Linked DNA regions of Homo sapiens: regions 1 and 3 are each reported to be linked to region 2. The links are microRNA targets in miRTarBase. Many come from high-throughput screens and were not tested one by one. Region 2 holds a microRNA gene; each other region holds the end of a gene's coding sequence.
Evidence for each region. Region 2 holds the annotated microRNA hsa-miR-6871-3p (CAGCACCCUGUGGCUCCCACAG, at 6,111-6,132, opposite strand). A microRNA usually pairs through its seed, bases 2 to 8, with sites in the 3' UTR of a target mRNA and lowers its output. Matches are read on the target gene's strand: a 7mer-m8 pairs with bases 2 to 8, a 7mer-A1 pairs with bases 2 to 7 and ends in A, and an 8mer does both.

Region 1 (10,440 bases), not on the chromosome of region 2:
CTCTTGGTGGGGTGGGAGGAAAGAAAATGATTCTTACGCATTTATTAATGTTTTCCATCTGTTTGGAGCCCTGCCGAAATGTGGCTTAGTGCTGCAGTGAAAGCCTGGTTGACAGAGCCTGTGATTGGGCTCTGAAGTCCAGGCCCTGGCAGGATGATGGCCCAAAATGCAACATTCAGGCCACATGGCATGGGCAGGAGGAATGGGGGTGGAGGCCCCAGAGCCCAGCACTATGCCTGGCGCAGAGGATGTACTTGGAATACGTGAACAGATGATTTATGAGGTGACAGCTGGTGGTGGAGGACCAAGGAGCAGGTGTTCTAGATCCATCTTTGCCCTGTCTCACTCTGTGGCTGGGCACATCCCTTAGACTCTCTTTCTCCATCTAAAACATGAGAGTAAACATGTGTTCCTTCTTGACCCACAACCTTATAGAAGGAAGTAAGGCTTACGAAGTGTGAGGGGGGCTTTGGGTTTTAAAAAGAGGAGTTCTAAATCCCTTGAACCCAGTTCCTCTCCATCTCTTCCAAAGCAATGAAGGCAGGTGTTGAGAATGCTAACTCTGAGGTTCTGTGCAATCTTCAAAAGTCTTCAGAGGCATTCAGGAGCAGGGCAGGAGGGGGAGGAGAAAAAGGGGAAGTGGGGAAGAGAGGAGGAGAAGGAGGATGGGAGAAACTCTGTTTACCTGAGAGTAGGTTTAGGGCAAACATATCTGTTTCGTGTAATGTTGGGGACAGACTGGAATTCCAGCCCTTATTCTGAGACTCCTTATCTATGTGACTTTGGACAAGTCACTTGACCTCTCTGAGCCTCATCTTCCTTCTGTGTAAAACAGGATGACAATGGTTCCCACCCCGTGGACGAGGGGGCTATGAGGATGAAATGAGGTAATTCATGTAAAGCTCTGAGCAGAACGTCTGGAGAACTGCAATTCTCTGTAGAAGTGAGGTGCTGCAATTGTTACACTATCAGCAAGGCCGAAGATAAGTCCAGTGCCCATTGGGAAGTCCCAGATAATGAGTTCATTAGGCGCAACAGCCTTTCCCGAATTGGGTGTGTGGGGAGACCTTGCCACCCTTCCCTTTCTAGCTTGTGCCGCCACCTACTGGTGAAGACAAGAATTACAGCTTCTGGAAAGCTCTCTCCACGACCCCACCCCTCACAGCCCCATCCTCACTCCTGGGATGGGTGGGAGGCACATTGGCAGGGAGTGGGGAGGCAAATCCAAGCCCCCAGTTCTGAGGCCACGATTAGCTTGCAGAGATTCCTGAAGGCTTGTCGACCCCAGTGAGAAAATGTGTCCCAAGTCTTATCCATTTCACTTTCTGATGATCCCTGGGACAGGCCCCTGGTCCGGGCCACCACCCTCTATTCCTGGATGATATGGCAGCCTCCTCACTGGCCTCCCTTCCTCCACTCCTTCCCACAGCAGCAAGGAATTTTCAAAACATGCAGCTCTGGTCACCTTGCCCCCAGCTTAAATCTCCCAGTGTGTCCCCTGCCCTGGGACAAAGTCCAAGCCCTCTGCCCAGCTCACAAGGCCCCTCGGGCTCTGACCTCCCACTCAGCCCTGTTACCCATCCTCTGCCCCTTCCAGGCCTTGTTCATGCTGTTCCCTGGCCTGACATGCCCTTCCCTCCCTTCTTTGCCTGGTGAGCTCCTACACACTCCTGAGGGCTCAGCATGGGTGCTGCTTTCTCCAGGATGCCTTCCTGGATCCCCCAAGGCTGGGGCAGCGGTCCTGCAGTCTTTCCCCTTGCCAAGCCATGTCGCCTCTGGATTTGTATCCCCTGCTAGACTGAGTGGGAACGGTGCTGGGTTTTCTTCACTGCAGCATCCCCAAGCCTGCCGGACTCTTGATGCATATCAGGTTTGCTGAGTGATGAAAATCTTGGCGATAAAGACCCAACTCTTTACAGCTTGAGCTGACCTGGGGGTCCCTATAGTGGCCACAATGTCCTGAAAATGACGTTGAGAGTCTGACAGGTGTTTGCCACTTTTGTAACACCCACCCAAGAGGGGCCTAGTGTGGCTGGCTCGAGAATGCAGTCTCCTTGATGGGTTATGGGGGTACAATGATGGCTACTTGGGCTTATCTTCTGACTTATTCTGGGCATCTGAGGAAGGAGTGGGAAGCTGGAGTGGGGCATGATCCCTAATCTTTGCCTTGTGTTCCCTGGTGTGGAACAGCACGTTGCCTCTTCCATGGGCTCCACATGGCAGTGGCAAGTGCAGCTCCCCCACTCTGAGCTCTTTCTCCTTGAGAACTGATCCCTTTTATGACAACAATTCCTGCAGACCTGGAGGTCTTATCTCCCAGCCCAGGCTCAGGCTCAGTCCCATCCAGCTGGCCATGCCCACCACCTCTCTTAGGATGGGTACCCCAGGATCCCACTTCGGGATAGGGATTGTCGTGTAGGTGATTTGTTAAGGACTGGCCCCTGGGGACACTGGTAAGGGAGTGGAGGAGCAGGATGGGAAAGGGGAAAGAGGTAAGCAAAGGGACACTTTCAGGCAAAGTCCCAGTTCCCGCCTGATCCCTCTGGGAATCCTGGAGTGTAAATTGCACCTCGTGGTCGTCATCATGCCCCAAAATAAAGAGCTGGCCTTTCACGTTCCCATACCTGCCAGTCATTAGCTAAGGACCATCCTGGGGTGGTGTACACACCCCCAGCTTCCTGGTCTGTCTTCTTTGCACTTGTGCTCAAAGAATGTATGAGTAGCCCAAGGGCAATTCTCCAAAGAAGAGTTCAGACTGACCATTAGTAACAAAATCTGGGAAAGGGCACCTGGGACGCTTCCCTGAATTCTCTGATTGAGCCAGTTGACATGTTCTCAGTCTTCTTTGAAGTGTTGTGCAGTGCAGTTTCTGGAAAAGTCCATGTGTCTTCTCTTCAATGAGGCAGCTACCCCATGTCTTAAAATAGTGGCCACTGCCAAGAGCCCTCTGCCTAGCCCTGGTCCCTGCTCATGAGCTCATTTTAGAGGTCTTTATATGTTCTTTAAAAATTTTACAAGGTACTCCTGCTTGTTGTAAAGTGAAATTTCCGAGCTCTCAAAGGTGTTTATGGTCATCATGAAAATTTCATGCCACCTTCATTCCCAGAGCAGGTTTCTGGGCAGATGTTTTTCCAGGTAGTCTACTGATGTGGTTGGAAGTGGTTATTCAGGCCTGCCAGCATGCTCCCGCTTTCATCCGTGAGGGTGAGCTGGGGTGGGTTGGGCAGGGAGTGACAGAATTGACAGGATGTCTGGATGGGCACCTTCTGACTTCCTCAGCCAACCCTGAGCACGGCTCCCCGCCGGCTCTTTGAATTTTTTTTTTTTTTTTTTAGATGGAGTCTCGCTCTGTCACCCAGGCTGGAGTGCAGTGGTGCAATCTCGGCTCACTGCAATCCCCGCCTCCCAGGTTCAAGCGATTCTCCTGCCTCAGCCTCCCAAGTAGCTGGGATTACAGGTCAGTGCCACCATACCTGGCTAACTTTTATATGTCGGCCAGGCTGGTCTTAAACTCCTTGCCTCAGTTGATCCGCCCACCTCGGCCTCCCAAAGTGCTGGGGTTATAGGCGTGAGCCACCGCACCTGGCCTGGACCTTGATTTTGATATCACTGCAATTGTAGCCCGTGTCCCACCTGCCGTGGCCCCTGGTGGAAGGTTCACACACACTATTGTCTCTACCCCAGGCTATCTTGGCACATTTGAAGTGCTCCCTGGCCCCAGGACTTGGGAGCTGTGAGTCTCAGACCACTGGTGGGCATCTGTGCTTGGGCAGAGGGTTTCTTCTCCATGAGGTGTAGTGTCCCCAGCACATGCTCCAGGAGGCTGAGTAGCAATGCTTTCTGCCCCCACGACCTCCTTTCAAGACTTAGTCTAGAGCCTGGGAACTGGGCCCTTCTCAGAAACCTCAGGCAGGTCTTGACACCGTATCCTTGGGCCTTCCCATTTCAATGTGCTCCTGCCATTGCAGCTGGCATTGCCATCTCTTGGCTGGGGGCTTGCTGTGAAGCCACAGAGGGCCACTCTTCCCTAGGCAGGGCAGACAAGAAGCACCTAGGAATTCATATCATCCCCAACACCAGAAGCCCTCAACAAACCACTAGTGGGAGTCGGTGTGTAAATACCCCAGCTCCCTCACTCCCGGGTGGAGTATCTCCAAGGTGCATGTTCTACCCCGATTCCTAGAGCTTCGGGTGGGAGTCAGCTCCAGTCCCCACAGGGGTAGCTGGGTTGAAACCATACCCTTCACTGGCTGCCTTCCCCTCCTTCCCTTTGCCATCTCACTTCCCTACTTCTCTATTGGTGTTTCCCACAATCACCTCCCAAATATACTGGCTGCCCTTGAGTCCTTGTCTCAGGGTCCGCTCCTGGGGCGGAGACAGCCCGGCTGCCTTCCCTGAAGCCTGCAGCACAGCCTGGCGGCTCCTTCCAGCCAGGTTCAGATGTGCCCCTCCTCTCCCACTCCTGCTCTGGACTTGCTCCAGCTCTCCTTCAGACAGAGGGTGATGACAGTATTTCTTGCATCCTGTCCCTAGCTCCCTCTGTTCCTGTCCATCCCACATGTTATGCAGGAACTGAGGATTCTCTCAGGCCCATGGGAAATCCTAGAAACACAGCTCCCTCCCAGCTGCCTAAGGGGGAGCCTGAAGCTGTCACAGACCTGTCTGAACCCATGGCCCATGCTGAGTCTGGAGCAGTTCAATCCCAGGGAGAAACGTGGCCACTGGAGTGGTCAGAAAGCTCATTCAAAACCAGCAAAAATAAAATTTAATTGGGCTCAAGTCTGGGCAGTTTGTCCTTCCTCAGGACCAGCCGTCAGCAGTCCCTGACGAAAGCACCCCATTCTCTCCACAGACAGCTGGTTCCAGAAGGACCCTCTGAGGCTGGTCTTCCGGGTAGGATGTGCTGTGGGAGGGTTCTGTTTCCGAGGAGGAGAGGCGCGACACAGCGTGCAAGGACCTGCAGCACCTTCCACGCAGCACCCCCTGCTCCTCCTCCTCAGCCCCTGCCGGGCTCTGACTCCTAAGTCAGGCAGGAGCTTCTTCAGGCCCCTGGCTGAGGAAGAGCCACAGCCACCCTAAAATGGCTTCGGGGGCATGCAGCCCTCCATCTCCAGCAGCTCTGGCCATCCCTCGTATTTGTTTGTGTCTGGGCTGTTCTTTAAGAACTAGAGAGAGAGAAGACAGAGAAATATAGGCAGTGAGTGAGGCTGTTCAGAACTCATGCCCACATGGACACTGTGCTCTAAACCTAAATGGGGGTGTGGGATGTTATTAACCCACTTCACAGATGGGGAAACTGAGGCTCAGAGAGGGGATGCAACTTGCTCAAGATCTCAGAGATGGGATCAGAGCCCAGTTAACTGCTCTCACGCCCTGAAGGGTAACCAGTTGTTGGAGAGATCTGGCCCCTCCCCACAAATTCTCTGTGTCCCTCTAGGATACCTCAAATAACAATAATGATAGCAACAATAAAAAGAAGACTCCGACCATGTCTTGAGCGCTTGCTGTATGCCACGTGGTGTTCTGCAGGGCCTTATGTATTTAATCTGCACAGTGGCCCTAGGGAGTGTGCACTGTTTACATCCCATTCTACAGATGGGGAAGCTGAGGCACAGAGGGTCACTGCCCGTAGTCACTGGCTGGTAAGTGGCAGAACCACCACATAATATTAATTAATACTAATAATAAGGGGTGGGGTGCAGTGGCTCACACCTATCATCCCAGCACTTTGGGAGGGTAAGGAAGGAGGGTCACTTGAGGCCAGGAGTTCAAGACCAGCCTGGGCAACATGGGAGACCCTGTCTCTAGAAAACATAAAAAAATTAGCTGGATGTGGTGGCACATGCCTGTGGTCCCAGCTACTCAGGAGGCAGAGGCGGGAGGATCGCTTGAGCCCAGGAGGTCGAGGCTGCAGTGAGCCGAGATTGTGCCACTGCACTCCAGCCTAGGTGACAGAGCGAGACCCTATCTCTAAAATATATATATACTAGTAATAAGTATGTAAGAAGAATAAAATCACTTAGGATTGTGTCTAAAATGCTCAGGTTTGGATTATGAAAGAAAAAAACGTAAATGGCAAAATCTGCTGTTGGAATCATTGTGGCTGACTCTCAGGAATTAAAAAAGAGATTCTAGATGCTACCTGCCTAAAACCCAGTTTCCCAAGTGTGAGGACTAAGAACAGACCGGCTTAGTCCCATTAGGGTGCTTGGTTCATTTTTGTGTGTCGGTCCCGGCCAGCTGGTTGCAGATGGATGAAGATGATGCTGGGCTTCCTGTACTCCCACGCCTCCTCTGTCTTGCCGGTTCCCCTGGGTCTGGAGCCCACGCTTTGGGGCAGGAAAGCACCACCTGCCCATGCAGCCTCAGACCTCTTGCCTCTTGCTAGGGCCCTGCTGCAGCACCCCCACAGGACATTCGGGAACCACACCCGGCCGCCCCCGCCCACCGGCCTCCTGCGTTCTTCACTGCGTTCAAGTAATTTCTAGTTACCCAAATACATCCTCTTAGAAACACACGCATACAGACCAAGACCACATTTTCTAGCTTAGGAAAGAAATCCTCCCATCCCAGTCCTGGTGCCCTTCCTAGAGCTCAGCACACGGTTCCCTGCACCTGCCCCCTCCAGCACCTCTTGTCTGATGATGGCATCGGCCTCCTCCCTGCCTTCTGACTTCCCTCCTCGTTTTCTCCATGCCTCGCCAGGGAGGCTGAAGGGATGGGGACAGGCATCCTGCTCCTTTCCCCGGGATCCCCTTCCCCGCCACACAGCTCCATGTCTCCATTTCTTTCTCGTTCCTTCATGCCTCACTTGCCCATCATCCTTCTTTTCTCCTTTTCCCTCTTCCTTTTCTGATAATTATCTGTATACCTGCGTATCTATATATGACCCAGCTTTTGCGAAATGGCCAAGGCAGCTTCCTGGCCAATCAGACCACCCTGGCCTTTGGAGTGAATGACAGCCAGGGGCCTCTCCCCAGACAATCCTCCCAATTTTAAGGCCCCTGGGAGGTGAATGGGTGACTCCTTCCTACCACCACCCAGCTCCTCATGCATCCTTCATAGGGCCGGGTTGTGGCCCAGAACCCACCTGCTCAAAGGGGCTTTTACCCCTGAGGTCTTTGGCTCCTATGAAGACCCAGCTGTCCCGGAAGCCCAGTTGTTTTGCGTAGGAACTCCCCAAGTCAGAGAAGAGTTTCCTGCTTTCATCGTTCATTCTGCAGAGGACCAGAGAGGATGGTCAGGATGCGGGGGTGGGTCGCAGGGGCATCAGGTGGTGGGATTCCCATGGGGCAAGGTTCCCACTCTTCTCCCCATTCAGCATCTGCCCTGGGGGTGTCCAGAGAACGTGGCTGCACTCAGGAAGGACAGGGTAAAGGGCTTCAAGACTTCCTCTCTAAAAGGGCTTCAGATGGGGCTGGAGATGTGTTAAAACAGTACTGCTCTATTTACAAATACAATACACATTCATTTGGAAAATATGGAAGATCACAAAGAAGTAACTAAGAAATACAGTCTCACCCCTCCTCCCCTTAGTGTGATCAGTGTATGTATTTCCATACAGTGTTTTTTTTTCCCCTCACTTAGCACTAGAGGGTGAGCGATTTTCCACGTCCTTAAATACTTTCCGCACCATCATTTTTGATGCAGTCTATCTTCATTTGTGTATATATCATATCCTATGTCACCGTATGTCATAGTTTCTGTAGCCAGTCAGCTGTTATTATTGGACAGGGAGAGGGTTTCCAGTTTTTCACTGTGGTAATGAAGGCTGTGATGAACCTCCTAGAACATTTCTTTGCATACTTGTCTGATAATTTCCTCGAGATAAGTTGCCAGAAAATGGATCTGGCAAAAGAGCAGAAAAGGGTGTGCAGGGTTTGAAGGTATTCAGTTTGCATCACTGTGTGGCCTGGCAGGTAGAGTTTTCTACTTACTTGGTCCCTGGATCGTCGTAGGAGGCCACCAGCACCAGTGCACCCCCCGGAATTTCTTTAAGGAATTTCACTAGGTGCATAACATCTGGGGGAGGAAGGAAAAGGTGCTGGTGATTTAGGGGAAATGAGCCCTGGTCATTCTCATGCTTGTCTACTGCCCCATGATGCAGGAGTCAGCTAGGCCCGGTGGACACTGGGCTGAGCTCAGAAGCCAGGAGGAAGAGCATCCCAGGTGGAGCTCCCTGTAGCCCTTGTCCTAGGGGAGGGCAGAGTGACCAGAGTGAGGGGAACTCATCCAGGTGATGTGGGGTGGCTTCTGGACACTGGAATTTAGAAATTCCCCTCGTGACAGGGATTTGCAGCTGAGGGTGACCACCACTGGTAGAAGGGCCCTTGTGTGCCTACCCCTCTGGGGACGAAGTGCCATCATCTCTCAGGTGCTCTGGGCCCTTTGCATACCCCAGACCCCATTCTACGCTGGACAATGCCCAGATTATCTGTGCTGACTTTAGGTGGTATAGCACGTGGCCTCAGACAACTGAGATCCCTGGGAGAGAATTCGAGTAGACTATGAATACAACTCTCCTGCTGTGTCAAGGAGCAAGGCTCTGCGTGTGTCTTTAATGCCTCCCTAACTTGCCAAGCTCTCTATTTAACAGAGAACAGCTCTAGGTTTAGCACCTGGGGGAGGCATCAGCATCCAGCTCACTGTGAAGAGGCTGATTTGTTTCCCTTGTGATTATTATTATTATTATTATTCTGACACAGAGTTTCTCTCTCGTTGCCCAGGCTGGAGTGCAATGGCGCGATCTGCGCTCATTGCAACCTCCACCTCCTGGGTTCAAGCGATTCTCCTGCCTCAGCCTTCCAAGTAGCTGGAATTACAGGCATGCGCCGCCATGCCTGGCTAATTTTGTGTTTTTAGTAGAATTGGAGTTTCTCCATGTTGGTCAGGCTGGTCTCGAACTCCCAACCTCAGGTGATCTGCCTGTCTCGACCTCCCAAAGTGCTGGGATTACAGGCATAAGCCACTGTCCCAGGGCCCTCCATTGTGATTATTTTTATGGTCACCTTCCCTGCATAACAAGTGATAATAGCTTTCCATTTAAGGCAGTAATATAGTTTCCTTTTAAGATATATTTACTTAGGTAAGAAAAAAAGTGATCCAATTTAAAGAAAAATACTAATAATGCAGATATTATTCTAGATATGGTGCAACTCGAGTGGGCTCAAGTTTGGGAACAAGCAGCCTAGTGGCTAAAGCAGAGACTATATCTGTCAAATGAGGATGAGTAACAGCCCTGCTTATAACCTCTATGAAGTGCAAATGTGACAATAACTTTGGGCATACAGTAAGCGTACTCTAATGGAACCAAAAATTATTAGCAGGATTGGCAGCATAATTTTCAGGACCCAGTGCAGAATGAAAATGCAGGGCCTTTTAATAAAAAATGATTAAGTATTTCAAGACCACGATGGCAGAGCATGAAGTCAAGTGTGAGATTCTTCCAAGCATGGGCCCCGTGTGACTGCCCTGTCCCCAGGTCATAGGCCCACAAAGCTGGCCTTGATTATTAGTATTCCAGTGCGGACCTCTAGGACCTTGGGGAAGAAGCCATTCTCCCAACTAAGGCCAGCTGCCAGCCAGCTCAGTGACAGAGGTTTCCGGTCAACCACCACAGTCACTCTTCTAAAGAAATGGCCCTTGAACTTTTATGACAAAAGGAGGGAGCTCTTAAAGCACCATTAATTTGTGTTGTTAGCAGATATTACGGTCTGGTGCTTGTCTGGATGGACGGTGGGTATTTGAAAAAATAAAACATGCCTTCTGCTAATGATCACCTCACTTTAAAAAGCCATCATCCCCTTTTGTTTCCTGAAGGGAAGGACTACTTGCTCACAATGCTTCTGTTTCTGGGTCCCCATCAGCCGTGGCTACATTCAAGTTTATCATAAGGCATTTTAAAGCTTAGTTTCATCTTTACGCTTTTTTTCCTTTTCATTCTGACAGATGATTTCCTTGCTTCTGAGTCATCTGGACGGAATGAGGGAAGAGGGGAGCGAAGGGGAAGAGGAGGGAAGGGAGAAGACTAACATAGCTTGCCTGGACCCCTCCACCAGTCAGGCTGGATACCCTTCCACCAATTATTTCAGGTTATCTAATCTTCACATCAATTTTATGGAGTGGAAACTATAGCTGCCTCTATGTCACAGATGAAGAAACTGAGGCTCAAGAGGCATCACTTGCTTCAGGTCATGCCGCCAGTAGTCTCTGACACCGGAGACTGGACGTTTTCCATAAACCTGGCCCCAGGCCACGCTGAACATCAGTAGGACTCCAGGCAGAATGTCTGGTCCTCAGCCCCTGGCCTGTCCCCATCTCCTGTTGCCCCTGTCCTCAGCTCTATCCTGTACCAGGAGGAGGGACCTTGCACACCGCATGTGGGCACTTCAGTGGGCCCATCCAGGCTCCATCCACAGCACCCTCCCATCAAGCAACAGC
Region 2 (10,440 bases):
AGTAAATAACTTAGTTACAATACCATTGAGACGAAAAATAATACTGCTATTTTTAACATGATCCCCTGTATCTTTCAGGCTGGGTCATGTTCCCAGCCATGGGCAATGTGCCCTTGTGCTGTGTCCTCCTCCTCAGGCAGGGCAGAACCCTTCTCCATGCAGGCCCTACATTCCTCTGCCCTGGCTCCAGGGCCAAACTGCAGGGGCATCTAGCTTCTCACCCTGCCCAGCTGTGGTTTTAAAGCTACAGGACAATGTAAACTTTGTTTCCCTGGCCCAGCAAGGCTCCTCCTCCTCCTCCACTCTTAGGAATGTCAGTAGCTCCTTGGAGTCTCCTGTGCCACTGGCTGAGGCAGCCTCTCTCTCCAAGGGGCTTCGGCCATGGTCCTGGCCCCACAAGATGGAAGGATCCATCTCCAGAAGTCAGGGCCAGATGTGTGTGCTTAATGCGAAACACAGTACAGTTTTTGCCTTCATCCAGAGCTGGGGCATGGAGGCCCAAAACAGTAATAACATCTCATTAATGGCTTGGTTTCTGTCTAGCATTCACTGCTGGAATCCAGGCTTCAGGCTGCGAGACCCGGAAGGCCGCCACAGGGGGCTGCTTCCAAAGAACCCAGTTCGCGGCATTCTACAAGGCGCACAGCACCTGCTGCTCTCCAACGAGGCTGGGGTACAACTAGAGGCGGTTGTCTCCATTGACCCGAGTCCTTCTTGGGGCCCTGGACAGAAGGGAAGAGTGTCCTTACTGGCAGGCAGGGCCTTGCAGCCCAATGCCAGACAATATTACAACTTTTCTACCCAGGAGAAAGAAACACTGAAGAAGGAGGACCTAGCCACTGCCTTCCTGGCTCTAGCACCCCTCCATCTTCCTCACCTTCGTTCTCGACTGTCAAAATGGTCTGCGAGATGCTCCTGGGAGATGCGGAAGTCCTCAAACGGCTGCTGGTAGCGGGATTCAAAGGAGCCTTCCCGGGCTCGGCCATGAAACAGCTGGCCTGAGGCATCTGAGCCCCGCTCCCGCAGGGACGTACCACTGAAGGGACTGAGGTCACCATTCTCCTGCTTCAACGAAGCCAGGTGCACAAGAGGGTCAATGACTCCTCTGCACTTCTAGAGGCTGCTGCCTGGCTCTCCTCCCACCTACCCCAGGCCAGCCCACCCCTGCTGCAGATACCTTGGCAGGGAAAATGTCAATCTTGATCAGCAGGGAGGCCAACTCCAGGTCCTCACTGTAGTTGTTCTTCAAAGGCACTGCTCTGTATCCTAGGAGGAGGAAAAGCCTGGCCCTCAGCCCACGAGGGACAGAGCAAGGGGCCCAGCCCCACCCTGCCAGCAAGATTGCAGGGGCACTGCCTCCAGGAATGGTCCTCACCTGTCTTCAGGCCTTTTACTGGGAAAGTAGCCTGAGCCAGGAAATTCTGGTCACTAAACATGTCTTCCTCATACACCACGAAGCGCAGAAAGGCAAATTCAGGGTTACTGATCTGGAAGTGGAAGGGCTTGGCTGGCCATACAGGGTTGAGTCCATTGTCCACTGTGAAGGCAACGACAAAAGGCTTCAGGTCACCGTGGGAGAGGATGGGATGACTGGTGGGGAGAGGCTTGCAGTGCCCCAGCAGGATGAGGAGGATGACTGGGAAGACAGACTGACCCACAAACTCTGTCTTCTGCTTGGTGCTGTCATACTCAGCTCCAGCCACCTCAATCTCCACAAAAGGACACACAATGCCTCGGCCATTCTTTGGCAGATGTCGGGCCCCCAGCACCTGTAGGCAGACAAAGAAGGGCCTGGGATTGTCCTTCCTGCTCCCTCCAATTCCCCACTGCGGAGGCTCAGTCAGCATCTGTGGAGTGGAGGCAGCGCGCCCTCTGCTGGGCCCCCGGGACACTGCCCATGGAGTCCCTCACGACATCAGGGACCCTAAGCTGTCCAGAGCAGCTGCTGCCTGTAGTTTATCTGAAGTCTGAGCTTTAGCCAAAATTTCCATGTGAGTTTTGCAATCTACTTCATGTTAAATCCATTACTATTTTAACACAGAAATCTTTTAAATGACCTCCCCTTAGGGAAAAAAAAGATCTCATCAGAACAAAACAAGTCATCAGAACAAGTCACACCATGGCTCTGCACGTCCTAGATGCATACAGTGACTGCATGCTATCTTCACCCCTTCAAAGACTCAGCTCAGGCCCCACCCACCCTGACCACCTTGATGCCTGAAAATACCTACTTTTGGAGAACTCAACATAAACAGACTCCAACGGCAAGCAGCCCCTTTCCTACCCTGAAGCCCAGATGAGCAGCACCCACCTCAATAGAGATGGCACATGGCTCCAGCCCGCGGAGGCTGCTCTTGTCAAAGGGGTCGAAGGCCTCATCCCGCATGGTGCTTGGCTGCAGCACGTAGCCACAGTGCCTGCCCGTCATGAAGAGGGCCTGGTTCATCTGCATAGGCTTGTCTGGAAGAGGCAGATTATGGTGTATTCCAGTCCAGCTGCCCCACAGTGCCCCTCCTCACCCTCCTCACAGGGGACTTCCTCACCAGGGGTCTGGAAGTTGAGGGCCACAAGCTGACTGCCACAGATCCACATGGGCAAAGGATCGTAGTTGGAGGAATCCAGTCGCTGGCCCTTGGGGTAGATGCGGGAGAGCTGCAGTCGATTGTACTGAAGGAACTTCTTGCCTTTGGCCTTGTTCACGTATTTCTCAGCCTTGGTTTCCGGGAAGGATGACATGTCCCGGTAGCAAGCACGTTCTGTGCCAATCTCTGGGCCAAACAGGGAAAACACTTACAGAGCCCGCCCACCCAGGAAGTGTTGGGGGGATACCTAAATACTCTTTTTGCACCCACCAGGCCCTCCAGGCACATGCACACCCCGCCTGGGCCCTGGCCCTTACTCTCTTCATCAAAGGGAACAGGCCGGCAGTAGACGACAAGTTCAGAGAGCTCCAGGGCAATCTTCTTCCTCCGTTCCATTATCTTCCCTTCAGTGAGCTGGTGACACACACAAGGCCCTGTAGCCCCAGGCTACAGCCCTGCCCAGGAGAAGGAAGCCCCTGCCAACCTTGGGCATGCCCACACTGCAGGTGCTCTGGGCCCCTCTCCCACCTTCCCCTGTACCTTCCAGACACCACACCCAACAGTAAATGAGGGAGCTCTGTCCTCAGCCTCATCCTGAAATCATCTTTCCTCTTTTCTGTCCCAGAGGACACATTTGCCCTCCAACCCTCTTAGGGGGGGTGGGGGATACAGACTCCTCATCACCACCCATGTTCCCAGTGACCTTCCAGGGATCCTGGAATTGGCCACACTCCCAAATGACACTTTCTGACCATTTATTACCCAGCCTCATGCTGGGGTAAAAATGATTCTTCTGTGTTACCTGTGACTGCACTGGGGATACAGGCCCCTGGCTTGGTTTCCATCTGTGTCCTAAGGATGATCCTCACTGCCTCAGCGCCCCCAACTCAAATATAACCACCCACTCTTCATGGCAAATCTCCATGCCAAATCTCTACAGAAGCCCACTTACAAGCACCCCAACCCATCCTCTCCTGGAGGACTTTCTTTCAGTGGCTTTTTTTTTTTTTTTTTTTTTTTGAGACAGAGTCTTGCTCTGTCGCCCAGGCTGGAGTTCAGTGGCGTGATCTCGGCTCACTGCAATCTCCACCTCACGGGTTCAAGCGATTCTCCTGCCTCAGCCTCCCGAGTAGCTGGGATTACAGGTGCCGGCCAACATGCCCGGCTAATTTTTGTATTTTCAGTAGAGACAGGGTTTCACCATATTGGCCAGGCTGGTCTCGAAGTCCTGACCTCAAGTGATCTGCCCATCTCGGCCTCCCAAAGTGCTGGGATTACAGGCGTGAGCCACCACGCCCGGCCTCAGTGGCTCTTACATTCAGACTCTTCCCTTTTCAGCCTAGACCCCCAGATCCAGTCCTTCAACCACCTGGTATGCCAGCACCTTTTCCTTCTAGGGGACAGCCTGGCAAGCACCCTATCCCTTCTCTATTTGGCTTGCGGGTGCCCTCTCCAAAGCAGCTACAGACCCATCTACCAAATGCACTTGGTGAAAGGGCCACCAAGTAGGAATTCCCTAACCCTTGAGAATACTTCTCTGTTCCCCCAGGCTCAGGGGAAGAGGCCACCTTCTCCAGAAGGCTGGTCCTACCAGCTAAGCTTGGGCTCCATCTCCTCCCACACGCTGCTCGCTCCTTTCAGCCATCTGCATGAGAGCCTGCTCAAACCCCAGTCACCTGTTCTCTCCCTCAAGGACAGGCCCTACAAAGGCTCTGCTTTTGCCATTCCAGACTCCCTGCTGCCCACTGCCATCTAATGCCAGCCATGCTGCTGATGCAGCTCAAAAGTCTCACAAGGGCTATTAGCTGCTGCTGAATCCAAAGGGCACTTGCAAGTTCTTATCGTTCCTGTCTTTACCTCTGTAGCTCTCAACACAGCAGACCCTCTCCCTCACCAGTGGCCTGCAGTCTGTCTGACCTGCCTTTCCTGGGCTCCTTTCCTCGCCCATGCCTTCTCATATGGAGCTTCTCAATCCATCCCAAGTTCTCTTCCTATGCGACACCACCTCATCCCTTCTATGCCTCAGCCCCCACTCCACTCCTGCTTCCAGCCCAGGACTTCTCCTCTTACCTCTGGTCTTGTGTATCCAATTGCCCACTAAGCAGACCCACTTCAACGACCCATCAGTATCTCAAACTCAACACAACCTAAACACACCACATTGCATCTTATGTGTCTGTTTCTTCTCAATCCCTAGCTAAGGCAGGGGCTGTGGCCTATCTAGCATAGGCCATCGGCTGCCCCACTGCTCTGAGGGGGCCTGTGCTGGGAGCTGGAGGCCTCAGCTGCCTGACGGGCCCACACACTGCCCCCCAGAAGGTTCCAGCAGAATCTCACCCTGGCGTCTGCTGTCTGGGCCACTTCACGGATCTTTTTCACCCAGTCCTGCAGCTCCTCCTGTGAGTCGGCAGCAACATCCAGGGACCAGTGGGCCACCGACGCCATGCTGATGGAGAAGACGAAGAGCCGGTTGTTCTTGCCCTCAGGACGGATGGCTGGGAGGGCGAGAGCAGATAACAGCTGGGAATAGACATCTCACCCCCTCCACCCCACTCCACACCGCAGGCACTGGCTCAAATGAGTTCTATCTCATCCCATTTCCTCCTTCCCACACCCCATGAGGGGAAGGACTACTCTGCTGGCCCATTTGACAGATGACGACGCTACAACTCAAACAAGTCACTGCTGGTTGTGGTGGAGCCAGTGTTCCAACTCAGCTCTGACTCATGCTTCTTCCTCAGGCCGTGTCTCCCTCTCCACCCCATCTCCAAGCCTCTGTCACATCCCTGTGGTACAACCCATTAGGCCTGGGGATGTCAGCCAACCAGCAGCATCAACTTTGTTCTGCTGATTCTGACGGGTTCCCCAGTGCCTGGCATAGGTAAACATGCAGGGGTCAAAGCTGACAGTGACAAAGGGAGCCCAGGGTGTCAAGGGGATGTCCAGAGCATGGGGAGAGCTTGGAGTGAGGGCAGACTTTGGGGTTCAGCCATCAGCTTCCTCCCTAGGAGCAGGAAAGAGATACAAAGAAGAATCTCACCCTAGGGAACAGTGGGCAAGAGAAACAGATGGGAGCTCACCAATCTGACAAGCCGGCACATCCAAGACCCCCCGCAGCAAGTCCCCTAGGGGGCTGTTCTCGTCCAAGTGCTGTGGGAAGCAAAGCCCACCAATGGTCAGCATGGCTACTGCATATGTGTGTGAGGGGATATCCGTGTGCATGGGACAAATACATCTTGTGGGTGTACCTGTGACTGCCAAATGTAGCACAGGTATATGGGAGACTACGTGCATGGCCACATGGGCTGTGCGACCAGCCCATGTGACAGGTGTCTGTGCATGCACGTGCGTGCTTGGGACTGTGTGATGGGGGCATGCCAAGGAGAATCTGGGAATAGGGAATGCTGTTACTCAGGTGGTTCTGGTCTTACCTCCCTCTCCGGCTCCAGGGCCACGGGGTTGACCATCTCTTCCACGTAGTTTGATGGGAACCACAGCTGCTTCTTCCCTCCGTAGTCCCCTCGCCACCTGTGGGAGCCACAGGGTGCTGACCTCCAGCAACCACCCCGAACTCCCATGAGGAGGGTATCCTTTGGTAGGGGTTCCCATGCCTAAGCCAGGGTGAGGCAGGCACTGCTGGTGCACACAGGAGACAAGCACATCACAAATGCATGTCTTTGGGGCCCCAGCTCCACTGGGGCCCTTGGACTCTGGGCCTACCACACCACTGGCTTACCAGCCTCCCTCTTGCTTCTCCACATTCTGGATGATGGCGCTCTTGATGAAGGTCAGCTCGTCCTCCCTCTGGGCCTTGTAGTCAAAGAGGGCTTTGACTGCACACTGCAGAGGTGAGAAGCACCAGTCAGAGCAGAAAGGCTCTCCCTGCCACTGCCAACCTGGGGCTTCATGTGCACACACACATGTGCTTGGGCTTCCCTGCCTGGGGTCAGGCCAGTGGGAGATGACACTGCCATCAACAGGCCCTAGTTATAGTTCTTGTTACTGCCCTGCAGGGAAGCTCCAGGACAGATATGATCAGAGAGGCAGGGCCTCTGCCAGTGAAATACCTCGGGACCCAGGTGGAACCTTAAGCCCCACCCTGGGCCACAGGGAGAACCTTGAATCCGCTCCCAGGAGTCAGGGCTGGCAGGCCAAGAAGGCAGGGTCTGCAGTGGCCCTGAGTGCCTCCCCGGGACCTGGAAGCATATGGGGCCTGGATGGGACCCTACCACTCATCTGTGAAGTGGAAAGAAAAACTTCCTTCCAGGTCCCCTGGCTGTGGAGGGGAGGGGGTGAGAAATAGGGCCCAGGCCTTTTTAGAGAAAAAGGCAAAACAAAAAAGAACCTGTGTAACAGGGCTCCATGAGGCCGGGGAATGAGTGGCCAGTGTGCCTCCCAGCTCCTACCCCGCTGCTGCCCAGGAAGGAAACAGGGGTCACCCACAGGAGCAGTTTAAAGGGTCACTGCTGACTTAAGGGGTAGGGGCTAGGGAGTGGGTCGGCCCTGGGAGACCTGCGGTCGCTCACCAACCACACATCTCTCACAACCTCTTGGGCCTCGGAAAACCACAACCACCACTTCTCCACAAAGACCACAGATGGCCCAGAACACAGAAATGAAGCCCCAAGCAGCTGGGGACCCTCCCCAGCTTCCTATGCCCAGAGGCCTGAGCTGTACCTTGAAAGTTGGCATAGGGTTTGCCTCTACATAGAAGCCAGGGTTGCGTCCCTCATACAGGGCCCCGTAGTCAGGCTCCTGGAAACAGGACACAATGGGATATGTTAATGCCCCAGAGCCCAGAGGTAGAAAGCAGCTACTGGTTTCTGGAGCAGCTTCCCTTTCCCCCAGTGCAGCAAACTTGCACCTGATCCACAGGGATCCTTCGACCTCAGTAGAGACGGCTTCAGAGGCCTCAGGCCCGGCCTCACTGTTCCCTTTCCTTTCTTCACATTCTTACATGTAAGGCCCAGCCCAGGATTCTAAAATCTCTCAGGTCCTAAATGCCCAAACTCCCAAGTATTTCTGAGCTATGTGCAGGTGGGCCCTTCACAGACTACCCATATTCAGTGCTTTAGTTCAGTGGCTTGTTGGTTCACTGCTGAGCCCAAAGTCAGGAAAAGCCTTCCCACTCCCCACATTCCTCCTGCCGCTCCTCTCCATCACTTGAGTCCCAGGTGCCAGTGGACAACAGGCCTCTCTCTCCCCAGCCAGCCCTGTCTACTGACGACAGCAGTCTCTCAACTGATCTTCTGGTCCTAGACCCCTTCCTTCTGTCCAGGGCCCTTATCACCAGCTGTGCTGCCATGGGTCCTGACTTTTTCCCTCACTGGTCTCACCTCCTGTGGCTCTGCCCTCCATACCATCCACCAGGCGGAGGCTCCACAACCACTCTTGGGTAGCCTCATCTCATCTGCCCTAGGACAGAGTCCAGGCCAAGCCCAGGTGGATGAGTTTCCACTGTGTGCACCTCTCCCAGTGTGAGCCCCAGAACCTCCTCACTCCACATCTTGACTCATGAGGAACCCTCTGCTTATGTGCCTGTCCCCATCCTTAAAGATGCTGCTCAGATGTCCCCTCCTGCAGACACCCTCCTGGTACCCACACTGTGGCTCCCAGCTGGAGTCAGGGGCCCTCCCACGAACTTCTACAACACACCAGGTCTTGCTGTTACACACATCCAGAGACTGGTAAGATTCTGGGTCTCTCCTGCCTCCCCTGCCATGCCCCGTCTACCACAGCCCCCTCACAGCTGTGCCAATCTTCTCCAGTGCCTCCTCGTTGATGGGATAGCGCAGCTTCATCTTGCGGTATAGCGGGTGTTTCTCATAGTAGCTGATGAGGTCAACAAGGCTGTCGAACTCCGAGTTCCCTAGCATCACTGTCTGGCCCTCTTGCTGGACACGGCAATGCTTGATCTTGCCCTCAGCCCTTCACAAGGACAAAACAGTCACACAGGGTCAGGGCAGCTCAGACCCAAGCAAGGCCCCACAACCCAGTGCCACACCCCTCACCGGAAAGAGATGGCATATGAGTTGGGTTCATTCCGCTTCCGCACCAGGAAGGCCCCATCACGAGGGACGCGCATTAGCATGTGCTCAGCCTGTGCTCTGGTCAGGCTCGCGTGGTACCACCTGAGAACAGGCAGAGTCAGGCCCGGCCAGCACCACCCATGGCCCTGCCCTGCCTTGTCCGCCCCCAGGCCCTTCCCTCACTCTTTGCTCTCGTGGGCGTTGGTCTGTGGGACAGGCTCTGAAAGTCGCATCTCAAACTCATTACAGCGCAGGGGCACCTGCTGGTAGTGCGTGATGAGGTCATAGAGGGAGTCAAAGACGAGGTTGTCTGTCAAGAAGAACTTGGGGGTCCCAGCATCTTGCCGGGAGTGGATACGGCAGTGCTGGACTTTCCCGTTCCGCCTGTGGAAGACACAGAGTGAGGGAGGCTGGGGAAAACAGGCCAGGGCCCCAAAGACCAAGTTCCACCCCAAATGAGGGTGGAACTCAAGGAGGGAGCCTCAAGGAGGGAGGCCAATCTCCTGAGGAGCTCAGGTGTGGGCAGTCACATGAACCAAAGGTGTGGGCTTCAAATGAACCGAAAAGGGAGGGGTATGGGGGGGGGGTGAGACAGAGAGTGTGTGTGTGTATGTAGGTGAAATTATGTTCCATGTAAAGCCTAATTATTGTCCTGGATCAAAGGCTCAAATGTTAACTGATTATCTCTGGGTGATGTGATGTCTGTGTACACACGCTGACTGAACATACGCATCTGCATGGGAAGTGTTACCAGAAAGAGAGCGTGTAGTCGCCCACGAAGGTCTCACTCTCTCGCACGAGGAAGGAGCCGTCAGGGGCTCCGGTCTCGATGCAGTACTCAGTAAGCAGGCGCTCAGCGATGTGACGCCCGTCACGCCCTGCCCCTAGCTTCCCATGGAACCACTTCTCATTGGAGTGCAGCTCTGTGCTGCTGCTGACCTGTCAGGGGAAGGCAACAGCAAAGATACTGTGACCCTGGCCCAGGCCTGACCTGGCCCAGCCCCCAGACCTGAGCTGGTTCCTCACCTCCTTGGGCTCCTCCTCATCCTCGTTGCCCTGGTCACTGCTGGTCTCCTCAGAGTAGTAGATCTTGCTGCTGGTCAGAACAAAGTAGTGGGGATACCATTCCTGGAACAGACCAAAGAGGGACTTGTGAGCCAGGGTCCTCACACCCACTGGCCTACCACCCCCAGCCTGGCCCAGTCCTCACGTGGTTCACAGGGTCCTCCAGGTAGAGGATGCCATTCTTGATAGAGTTGCTGATGTCGTTCTCAGAGTACATCATGGATGTAGGCACCTCCTCGTAGGCACTGCCCTCAGCCAGCTTCTTGTGCTGTAGGGGCAACCAGAACAGGGCAATGCAGACCCCAGTCCTCACCCCACCTCCTCACCCAGGTTTAGGCCCAACAGCTGAAGCCATGGCCTGGGCAAGGCACTGAGAAGTGTGGGGCTTCCGCAATAAGCCCGCCACCCCACCTTGATGAGGATCTTCCTCTTAAGCTGGTTGGGTGAGGGGAGCCCGTCGGCAGAGATCTCCACGGGCTTGGTGAGGAGTGTGTCCCCCAGCACCTTCTTGAAGTATTGGGCCATGTTTCTCTGCTGGGCAATGCTGCAGTGGTCCTCAATGGACAGGATGACTGGGTACCTGCGGGATGGGGGACAAGCACAGTGAAACAGATTCTGCAATTCTCTGGGTCTAAGTAGCCCCTCACAGTGAGCTGTTGGAAGCCAAGGGCCTGGGGGCTTCTTGTCTGTAAAAACTATCCCAGAAAAGAGGCAGGCCATAGCCACTGGTGGGGCAGAGAGGGGTTCTACAGCTGTGGCAGCAG
Region 3 (10,283 bases), not on the chromosome of region 2:
TCTGTTCTCCAGAATCCCACAGTAAGCTGCAGGGTTCTGGGAGTGCTTCCTCACCTGTTGTTGAGCCAGAAACTGACTGCTAATAATGAGCATGTATGGGCAATACAGAGCTGGTGATAGAACTCCTAAAAGGAGGGCTAGATGGAGGCCAGAATTTGAACAGAGGAAAGAGAAAAAAAGCAACCATCTCCTTCCCCACAATGAGTGGTATGGAATCTAGAAAGAGATGAGATATCAGCCATTGAGCTTTCCTCTCATAGAACTCCTAGGTGGTTGCCAGCCCCCATGTCCATTCCTGGTTCTATGGTACATTCACAGGCCTATGCTCTGTCCCTCTTCCCCAGGTCACCATCGTGGTCCTTGGCAACAAGTGTGACTTACAGGAGCAGCGGCGTGTAGACCCAGATGTGGCTCAGCACTGGGCCAAGTCAGAGAAGGTGAAGCTGTGGGAGGTGTCAGTGGCGGACCGGCGCTCCCTCCTGGAGCCCTTTGTCTACTTGGCCAGCAAGATGACGCAACCCCAGAGCAAGTCTGCCTTCCCCCTCAGCCGGAAGAACAAGGGCAGCGGCTCCTTGGATGGCTGAAGAGCTGCCGTTCCTCTTTCACGATCCCAGCCCCATTTCAGTGTCTGGGGCTCTGGTAGATGTGTTGAGGGCAAAGTAGAGGACAAGCTGTCTTTCCCAGTCAGCCAGGGAGCTCCCCGCCAGGCCACGCCCCAGCCACTTTGCTCCCTCTCACCTCTGGGAAGTGCAAATACTCTTGGTTGACATCCCCTTCCTCAGCCCTCCCAGCCTACTCCCCATCCCAGCTTTTAGAGGATCTGCTCCACTGTCTCCTGGGGCAGTTGTGGGTCACTGTCCCTTCCAGCTGCCCCAGACAGGAAGCAGAGTCACCACGCAGCAGTGTCCCTTCTTGGGTCTGAGTTCCTATTATAGGTAGGGGCCCCACCCTCTGGGCTTCCCATCAGCGACACACACACACTTATGGCACCAGCCTGGACTCCAGAAAAAGGGTGTCCAGGTATTGTGTGTATGCATTTAGTTGTGCACACACAAATATGCTCCTATACTGGCATTAGGCGTCTCCTCATCCCTCACCCTGACCTTTCTCCTGTCCTTTTCTTGGCTGGAAGAAGTTGGCCTCCTGGGAGTGTAGTTTTCTGTTTTAAATCCCCCACCCCTGGCTGGGCTCAGTGGCTCACCCCTGTAATCCCAGCACTTTGGGAGGCCAAGGCGGGTCGATTACTTGAGGTCAGGAGTTCACGACCAGCCTGGCCAACATTGTGAAACCCCATCTCTGCCAAAAATACAAAAGTTAGCCGGGCGTAGTGGCACATGCCTGTAATCCCAGCTACCCGGGGAGGCTGAGGCAGGAGAATTGCTTGAACTCAGAAGGCGGAGGCTGCAGTGAGCCGAGATCGTGCCACTGCACTCCAGCCTGGTCAACAGAGCAAGACTCCATCTCGAAGAAAAAAAAAAAAAATTCCCCACCCCTACCAATTGTTTTACTTCCTCTTCCTGCTCAGGGAGCAGATGGGCCTCACTGGTTGAGATGGAATAGAATAACTGGGCTATGAGTCACCAGCCCACTTTGTGACCCAGCAAGACCTTTCCCCTCTCTGGGCATCAGTTTCTCATCTGTAAGATGACCAGAGTTGCTTAGATGATCTCCTAGATCCTTTCCAGTTCTCTTGATTTCGTAAAGCCAATGGCTTCTCCCTCTTTAAGGTGCTATGCCAACCAGCCCTGGAGGCTGGGATCTGCCGCTCCCTCCAGCCACCAGGGGGCAGGAGTGCACTACCTGCTGTCAGTCACCAGAGTGGCCGCTCAGTGCCCAGCCCGCCAGCCTCGCTCTTGGAGGCTGCTCTTTATCCTGCCTGTGGTTTTCAGCTCAGAGCTGGACTTCTATTTATAAGTTACCTGTATTTATATTTATATGCCCGCTCTCATGGTGAAGGCTGGACAAGGTGCTCCTCTGGCCCCTCCTTCTTACCTCAGATGCCTGAACAGAACAAGGCAAACCCGTAGCAGCCTCTCAGGAGCTGACAGGTCCTCTTTCGGGGCTCAGGAGGGTGGGCACACACCCAGCGGCCTGCAGAGTAAGCTTATTACCCACAACTGTGCCCGCTTTGTGCTTCTAAGGTGCACACCTAGCCTAGGTGAGACACTGCAGCCAGGCAACCACCGACACACGCCCCTTCTCAAAGCCAGAGGTGAGTGGGGCAGGTGCCCGGGGCTGGGTGAGTGGAATTAGGACACACACAGGCTTGGGCTTCAAGTTCATTTATTGATGCATTGGTTGGACACAATAAAACCACAATTGTTATCAAAAAGTTTCCCTCCCCTCCCCCTTTTTCTGGTTCTCCCATTGGAAATGTCTTTAAAAAACAAAAAAAAGATACAGGGGGATACTGGCAGGGTCCCATATTGTGGGGTGGGGAGGGGGCAGTGCTGCAGTGGAAAGGAGTTTGTGACATTGACATTGACAGCATGAAAATGGGTCTTGCCAGTGCATGTGAGACTGCCTCCCAACACTCAGCTTCACAGTGGCAGGGGCTGGTTGGGAGAAGGGAAAGCTGAATTTAGTGCTAGGACCAGTTTGGAGTGGGAAGCTGTAGGGGAAAGCTCTTCCTTTGGGAGCTCTGCGGGGGGTTCGGTGTTAGCTGAGTCCATAGTCTGAGGGAGACCCACACCCGCCCTCCAAGAGTTGGGGTTCAGGAAGTCAGAGAAAGGCTAAGAAGAAGAGCTTCTGAGGGATGAGTTACTCCCTCAATATTAAGACTGGGCTTATCAGCAAGTATCACTTGAACCAGGGAGGCAGAGGCTGCATGCAGTGAGCCAAGATTGCACCACTGCACTCTAACCTGGGCAACAGAATGATACTCTCAGACAGAAAAAAAGACTGGGCCCATGAATGCCCAGAAGACTTAAGATTAAAACAAAACCCTGGGCCCAACCAGAACATCACCTCCTCTCTTAGTCCCACCCCTTCAGAGCAGATGAAGCCCCCAAAAGCTTTCAGAACCAGCCCCACTACCTCCTTGGCTCTGCCCCACCTTAGCACTGCTGATCGAAGGACTTTTGGGTCCCCCTTTCTCCTCCATGGTCCTCTGTCACACTCCCATGGTCACCTTGTCCTGACAGCCTTGAGCCTGCTGCAGCTAGAGACCCCATCCCTATCTCCAGTGAAGCCCCAAAGCCTAGGAATAGAGGTCAGAGAGTCGTCCCCTGGCTAGGAGAGGATGGCTTGTAGAAGCTAAGATTCCTAGAGTCTGGCCATGTGGGTCTTGGGTGGAGGAAAGTGAGAGCACCACATGGCTGGGGCTGAGATTTTGCATAGATCTTTGGGGTCTGTCAGGGTGGGAAATGCAGGCAAGCCTAGGATTAACCCTGGAAGGCCTGCGAAAGGAGGGTGGGGACAGTCCTTGGAAGGCAGCTGCCCTTAAAACTAGCCCAGCTCTTTCTGGATCGGGCAGGACCCCTGAAGCTGTTCACAGTCCCTGTGGCATGTAGGAAACCAAGGTGTCTCAGGACAGGAGGAGACAAGGAGTGGCTATTGGGAAATCAGCTCTGGCCTCCCCATGAGGGCTAATAAGGGGCAAGGACGATAGGTCCTGTGGCAGGGCGGACAGCTCCTGCTGGGGTGCGAAACAGAGCTGGGCCCAGGATGGGAGCCGGGAAGAGGGTAGTGGCTGCTGTAGGGGCAGGGCGGAGGGCCAGGGGCCCTGGCAGAGCACAGATGGCAGTGGCTGCGGTGGGGAGCGGGCTGGGCAGGAAGCGGGCTGCCAACGTCTTGGTGAGTTGCTTCTGCAAGGCCAGTTTAGACTACACGGAAAAGAAAGGAATGGACACAGTCTCCACCCCAGAAAACCCCACCCCCTCCCTGGGGCCCATCCTCAAGCTTTTTGCTGCAGGGAAAGCGTGCCTTTTAGAGTTCCAAACCTAAATCCTCCTCCCTTCCCACCCCCAAACATTCATTCCGAAGGGCTTTCTCCACCACCTGTCTTCCTGTCCAGAGGGAGGAAAGTCTCAGCATGGGAGAAGGGAGGAGGATTTACGGGATAGAGATGGTCTCTAGGAGATGCACGCCCACCCCTCACTCTTGCCCCTAAGATGACTATCCCAACCCACCTCCCCGGAAATTCCTCTGCGCAGATCCCAGTTCCCAGGCCTAGCTCTGTCACTGCCCAGCAGCCTCATTGCAGGGTGGCCTCTTTTCCTGCCCCACCGCAGCCCCCCCATCTGGCCCTCCCAGCCCACCCTCTCCCCTCCTGACCCAGTCCCAGCTCTGTTGCCTGGAGACAGATACCTTGAGGATACTCACAGCCAGCGCTGCGTGCTTCTGCAGCTTGCTGTGCTGGCTGGAGGGCTTGGGGGTCTTCCCGGCCAGGCGGTCTTTGTGCCTCCTGCTGCTCATGTGCTAATGGACAGACAGACAGACTGGGAACAAGATGACAAAGCCCAAGGACCCCAAGACCATCATCCTCGACTCTTCCCCTTCCTCTATCCACAGCTCATACATCCAAAGCACACAGACTGGGTCCTCACCCTGGGGTAGGCCCTGGGAAGGGGAGGTGAGTCTTGGCCTTTGCCCTTAATTGGCCCACTGGCCTGCTGGCCTCGCTTCTCCAGCCTGCTCTGCTGTGCCCTGCCTGCTCTCTTCAGGGTCCCTCCCTCTGCTGCCCTGCCCCCCAACCCCCTCCCCTGGCTCCAACCCCAGTCACAGCCTCACTTCTCCCACCTGCTTCAGTTGGGTCTCTGAATTGACCTGGAGCTGACAGAGAGCACAGTGGAAGGCAGGGCTGGGCCCCTGCCGGCCGCCCCGGCCCCCTGTGACTCTCTTGGCTTTGTGTCCGGCACCTCCCCTGGACACCGGGCGGCCCCGGCTCCTCCGGGGAGCCCCTCGCTGACCTTCCATCATCCACCGGTGCTTGGCTCCTGGAGAGGGAAGAAGGCAGTCTCTCAGCAGCAGGAAGGGGTTGCAGGGGCCACAGAGACCCCCTCCACACTCATGCAATTTGGCTCTCCCTGTAAGCCTCACGGCTGCTCTGTGCACACATCGCCCTCCAGCCACACGTGGTTTCCCCTCCCAGCTTCTGTCCTTTCATGCCAGCCCCTCCTATGAAAGGCCTTTCTGCACTACAAATAGCTGCCTTCCCCTTTGCTTTGATCTCAGTCCTTTCCTTCTGGGTGTAATCTAAGGAGAGAGGCAGATGTCTCCTGTCTCCTGTGGAGTGACCCTTCAGAGATTTAGCGACCTTCAGTTCTTGCTGCCTCAGACTTCTCTTCCCAATTCTCCTTCCCCAAGGAGTAATGGGAGGACCCAGAAACGTCCGTTCAGTAACACACAAGCACAAAGCCTCCGCCATCCAACCCTTGAGCGAAGCACCCAGGAACTCAAGCCTGCCCTCATCTGGCGAGGCTTAGCTTCTGTCCCACCCTTTCCCTGGGCTCCAGCTCCTGGGACTACTGACCTGTGTTGTGAGCCTGAAGCTGGGAGGCCGAGTTCACTGTCACCTTACACGTGGGGCAGTAGAGGTGCCCCTTCTCACTCCTGCCTTCCCCACTCATGCTGCTTCCCACGGCAGCTGCCGCTGGCTCAGGCCCCGGTGCCTCTCTCCCAGGCTCTGGGGAGCAAGGTGGGCAGGAGGAAGAAGAGGATGAGGAGGCAGCATCCAAGAGCTCTGAGTGGGCTGGCTCCCTGCATGTAGGGTCTGGAGTTGGTGGTGGCTGGAGTGGAGGCCCAAGAGGAGGGGCTGCAGGAACTGCTGCAGAGATGGAAGAGTGTGAGACCCAAGATGACGCTGCAGACCACGATCTTCAGCTCTGACCATGGAGGTGGCCTGGAGGGCCCCTGGTGGATGACCAGCACTGAATTCCAGGCCCCACTTTTCTACCAACTCACTGGGCAGACTTGGGCCTCAGTTTCCCCATCTGAAATCATTAAGTTGGACACAGTGGTCTCAGAAAGCCCTCACAGCCCTCATATCCTTATTTGCTAACTTAAACAGAGATCACCAAAAAAGATGTACTAGAATGTTCAGAGAACACTATTCATAATATCATAAAACTGAAACTACCCACATGTCCACCAACAGGAGAGCAGATTTTTAAAAAACAATGGTGCGGGCTGGATACGGTGGCTCATGTCTGTAATCCGAGCACTTTGGGAGGCCGAGGCAGGTGGATCACCTAAGGTCAGGAGTTCGAGACTGGCCTGGCCAACATGGTGAAACCCTATCTCTACTAAAAATACAGAATTAGGCGTGGTGGCACATGCCTATAATCCCAGCTACTCGGGAGGCTGAGGCAGGAGAATCGCTTGAACCTGCAAGGTGGAGGTTACAGTGAACTGAGATCACACCACTGCACTCCAGCCTGGGCGACAGAGTGAAACGCCATCTCAAAAACAAACAAACAAACAAAAAAAACACAGTGGTATGGGCCAGACGCAGTGGCTCACGCCTGTGATCCCAACACTTTGGGAGGCCAAGGTTAGCAGATCACTTGAGTCCAGGACTTCGAGACCAGACTGGGTGACACAGCGAAACACCATCTGTACTAAAAATACAAAAATTAGCCAGGCATGGTGGCACATGCCTATAGTTCCAACTACTTGGGAGGCTGAGGCAGGAGAATCGCTTGAGAGCCAGGGAGGTGGATGAGCCTAGGTCACACCACTGCACTCCAGCCTGGGTGACAGAGCCAGACCCTGTCTCAAAAAAAAAAAGAGCTTTTAAGAATTTAAATTAAAAAAAAATAGTGGTATGATCCACGGTGGAGTACTACACAGCAATGAAAGAGAACAAACTACAGCTACACGCAAAAACATGGATGAATCTTACAGATATAATGAATGTTGATGAATGTTTGTGAGAGATGAATAAAAACTAGATACCGGCCAGGCAGGGTGGCTCACGCCTGTAATCCCAGCACTTTGGGAGGCCGAGGTGGGTGGATCACAAGGTCAGGAGTTCGAGACCAGCCTGGCCAATATGGTGAAACCCCGTTTCTACTAAAAATACAAAAATTAGCTGGACGTGGTGGCAGGTACCTGTAGTCCCAGCTACTTGGAAGGCTGAGGTAGGAGAATGGCTTGAACCCAGGAAGCAGAGGTTGCAGTGAGCCAAGATTGCACCGCTGTGCTCCAGCCTGGGAGACAGAGCGAGACTCTGTCTCAAAAAACAAACAAACAAAACAAAAAAAACCCACAAAACAAAACAGATACAAAAAAACCCCTGCACACTCTATGTTTCACCAAAAATAGGTAAAGCTGATCTATGCTGAGAAAAGTCAGGATCGTATTTACCATCAGAGGGGTTGTAGTTAGTTGAATAGTGTCTCCCCCAAAATTCACATCTATCTGGAACCTCAGAATGTGACCTTATTTGGAAACAGGGTCTTTGAAGATAAAATTAGTTAAGATGAGGTCATGCTGGGTTCGGGTGGGATTGATCTAGTGACTGGTACCCTTATAAAAAGAGCTTGTGGAAACACAGGGACACACAAGGGAGAATGTGGAGATGGAGGTGGAGATTGGAGTGATGCGTCTATAAGCCAAGGAGTGCCAAGGAATACTGGCAGCCACCAAAGGCCAGAAGAGAAGCATGGGACACTTTCTCCTCTAAGCCCCCAAGAAGGAACCAATGCTGTCAACGCCTTGATTTCAGACTTCTGGCCTCCAGAGCTGTGTGAAAATAAATTTTTGTTGTTTTCAGTCACCCAGGTTGTAGTCTCTTTTTTTGGGGGTGGGGGTGGGCAGGGGAGGTTAGAGACAAGGTTTTGCTCTGTCACCCATAGCTCACTGCAGCCTCGACCTCCTGGGCTTAAGCAGATCCTCCTGCTTCAGCCTCCTGAGTAGCTGGGACTACAGGTGTGCATCATCATGCCTGGCAAATAAATTTTTTGTAGAGACAGGGTCACACCATGTTTCCCAGACTGGTCTCAAACTCCAGGCTTAAAGCAATCCTCCCGCCTCAGCCTCCCAAAGTGTTAACCATCACAACATGTGAGCCACCATTCCTAACTTCACAAATGAAGTCATTTGTGAAGGCAGCCCTTGGAAATGAATACTTCAAGGTAATGACCAGGAGGAGGTGCAAGACAAGCTTCTGAGGTGCTGGTAACGTGTTTCCTGATCTGGGTGTGTTCAGCTTAGGAAAATTCATGGCGTGGTACACTTGTGTGCCTTTGCCTGTCTGTATGGAATACTCCAACACAAGCAAAAAGAATAAGCAGAAATCTCTCAACCCCTTGTCGGAAACCAGATTTGGAGTGGAGACGTGGGAAAGAGAAGAGCTCAGGACTGACCTTTACTCTGTGGCTCTCCAGGGGCTCCACTGGCCAGCGTTGGGATTGGGGACACTACAGCCCCATCCTGGGCCTGGGTGTGTGGCCTCTGCTTGCTCTTGGCAGCCTCGACAGCCTTGAGTTTTCTGGCGTGTTTGTGGCCTTTATAATGTGCCTCGGCCTGGTTCTGGGGAGGGGAGGGCAAGAGGTCACCATTCACTGGCTGAGTCCACATGCCCCATCTGTGAACTGGAGCCCAGCAGGGGGACAGGTCAAAGGGAGGCAGGGCTCAGGTCACACAAAGGGCAAGTCCTTGTCCTTGTCATCATCATCACCATAGCACATGTGGCTCTGAGGTTTGCAGAATGTGTTCTCGCACATGAACTCCAAGGCAGGCTGCCTCTGGCTTCAGATCTGACCCAGCCACTTACTAACCACATCTTTTTGTTGTTGTTGTTGTTGTTTTTGTTTTTTGTTTTTTGAGATGGAGTCTCGCTCTGTCGCCCAGGCTGGAGTGCAGTGGCGCCATCTCAGCTCACTGCAACCTCCGCCTCCCGGGTTCAAGCGATTCTTCTGCCTCAGCCTCCGGGGTAGCTGGGACTACAGGCGCCCGCCACCACACCCGGCTAATTTTTTGTATTTTTAGTAGAGACGGGGTTTCACCATATTAGCCAGGATGGTCTCGATCTCCTGCCTCGTGATCCACCCGCCTCAGCCTCCCAAAGTGCTGGGATTACAGGCGTGAGCCACCACGCCTGGCCACTAACTACATCTTTAGGCAAGTAACATCTCTCTGAGCCTGAGTCTCCTCACCCATAAACCCTGTGATGATAATACTGACCTCATGGGGTTGTCAGAATTACATGGGAACATGAATTACAAGGGCCGAGTACATAGAGTAGGTGCTCAATGAATGTTAGTTATCAAGTGTATCAATGCACAAATGGAGAAAGCAGAGCAATCCCCACACTTTGGGGTGTATGTACCCCAGAACATTCATCCCTTTGTTCATTTGTTCAACAAGTCATTACTGAGCATTTGCTATTTGCCAGGCACTGTGCCCGGGGTCCGGCAGGAAGAAGAATGGTTCCTCCCTCAGAACGAATTCTCTCCTCCATCTTTTTTTTTTTTTGAGACGGAATCTCGCTTTGTCACCCAGGCTGGAGTGCAACGGGAGCAATCTAGGCTCACTGTAACCTCTGCCTCCTGGGTTCAAGCGATTCTCCTGCCTCAGCCTCCCGAGTAGCTGGGATTACAGGCACCTGTCACCACAACTGGCTGCTTTTTTTTTTTTCTTCTGTATTTTAGTAGAGATGGGGTTTCACCATGTTGGCCAGGCTGGTCTCTAACTCCTGACCTCAAGTGATCCACCCACCTTGGCCTCCCAAAGTGCTGGGATTACAGGCATGAGCCACCACGCCCAGCCTCTCCTCCATCTCTTGCAGGACTCATGGAACCAGAAGGCCTGAAGGGAATCCTCAAATCTGGTCTGTCAGTGTCCTCCCTCCAAGGGTCCTCACTTGCTGCTCCCCGGCCCACCTCCTTGAAACATGGGAAAGACAGGCCCCCATGGCCCCTCCCTGGATGCTATACCACAGCAGTTCTGCTGGCATCCAACCGAAACCCCAGATTGCCTAACAGGAGGTAGACCTTCCCTGGGAGGCCAGAATGAGGTTCCTCCTCTACCTAGTGGTAAGATGTAGTAGAAAGGGGTAGGCTGTAGTAGAAAGTCATAGACCTTGGGGTCAGCCAGGCCTGGATTCATATCCCAGCTTTGCTACTTACCAGCTGTGTGGTCTTAGGCAAGTCACTTAACCTCTCTAAGGCTCACTTTCCTCATCTGAAAATCGGGGATTATAATAGCGCCTCTAGGCCAGGCGCGGTGGCTCACACCTGTAATCCCAGCATGTTGGGAGGTTGAGGTGGGTGGATCACTTGAGCCCAGGAGTTCGAGACCAGCTTGGGCAACATGGTGAAACCCTGTATCTGCCAAAA

Region 1: miRTarBase lists FAM3D as a target of hsa-miR-6871-3p. Seed matches in the 3' UTR shown: 7mer-m8 at 4,976-4,982 and 7mer-m8 at 4,832-4,838.
Region 3: the mRNA of NKIRAS2 is a reported target of hsa-miR-6871-3p. Seed matches in the 3' UTR shown: 7mer-A1 at 1,727-1,733.

What each region holds. Positions count from the first base shown.
Region 1 is chr3:58,629,204-58,639,643 of GRCh38, forward strand. FAM3D (FAM3 metabolism regulating signaling molecule D) reads right to left here. Exons shown (of 10, transcript NM_138805.3): 8 at 7,938-8,022; 9 at 7,091-7,217; 10 at 4,743-5,165. The coding sequence ends at 5,076. It overlaps FAM3D-AS1 (FAM3D antisense RNA 1), which reads left to right. Exons shown (of 4, transcript NR_134853.1): 3 at 3,336-3,457; 4 at 4,853-5,237. Among named protein-coding and RNA genes, the nearest start is that of FAM3D-AS1, 27 kb to the left of the region's middle. RefSeq lists an enhancer at 1-156.
Region 2 is chr20:41,164,749-41,175,188 of GRCh38, reverse strand. MIR6871 (microRNA 6871) reads right to left here and starts at 6,166; the gene lies at 6,111-6,166. It overlaps PLCG1 (phospholipase C gamma 1), which reads right to left. Exons shown (of 32, transcript NM_002660.3): 13 at 10,088-10,256; 14 at 9,822-9,944; 15 at 9,638-9,739; 16 at 9,363-9,550; 17 at 8,795-8,995; 18 at 8,594-8,713; 19 at 8,330-8,510; 20 at 7,260-7,337; 21 at 6,319-6,422; 22 at 6,014-6,110; 23 at 5,663-5,732; 24 at 4,920-5,077; 25 at 2,900-2,996; 26 at 2,544-2,768; 6 more. The coding sequence ends at 680. RefSeq lists an enhancer at 1,625-1,674.
Region 3 is chr17:42,023,310-42,033,592 of GRCh38, forward strand. NKIRAS2 (NFKB inhibitor interacting Ras like 2) reads left to right here. Exons shown (of 4, transcript NM_017595.6): 4 at 345-2,332. The coding sequence ends at 584. It overlaps ZNF385C (zinc finger protein 385C), which reads right to left. Exons shown (of 9, transcript NM_001392013.1): 5 at 8,310-8,475; 6 at 5,474-5,764; 7 at 4,741-4,937; 8 at 4,309-4,419; 9 at 2,267-3,824. The coding sequence ends at 3,588. Among named protein-coding and RNA genes, the nearest start is that of NKIRAS2, 8.4 kb to the left of the region's middle. RefSeq lists enhancers at 1,628-1,677, 5,448-6,236.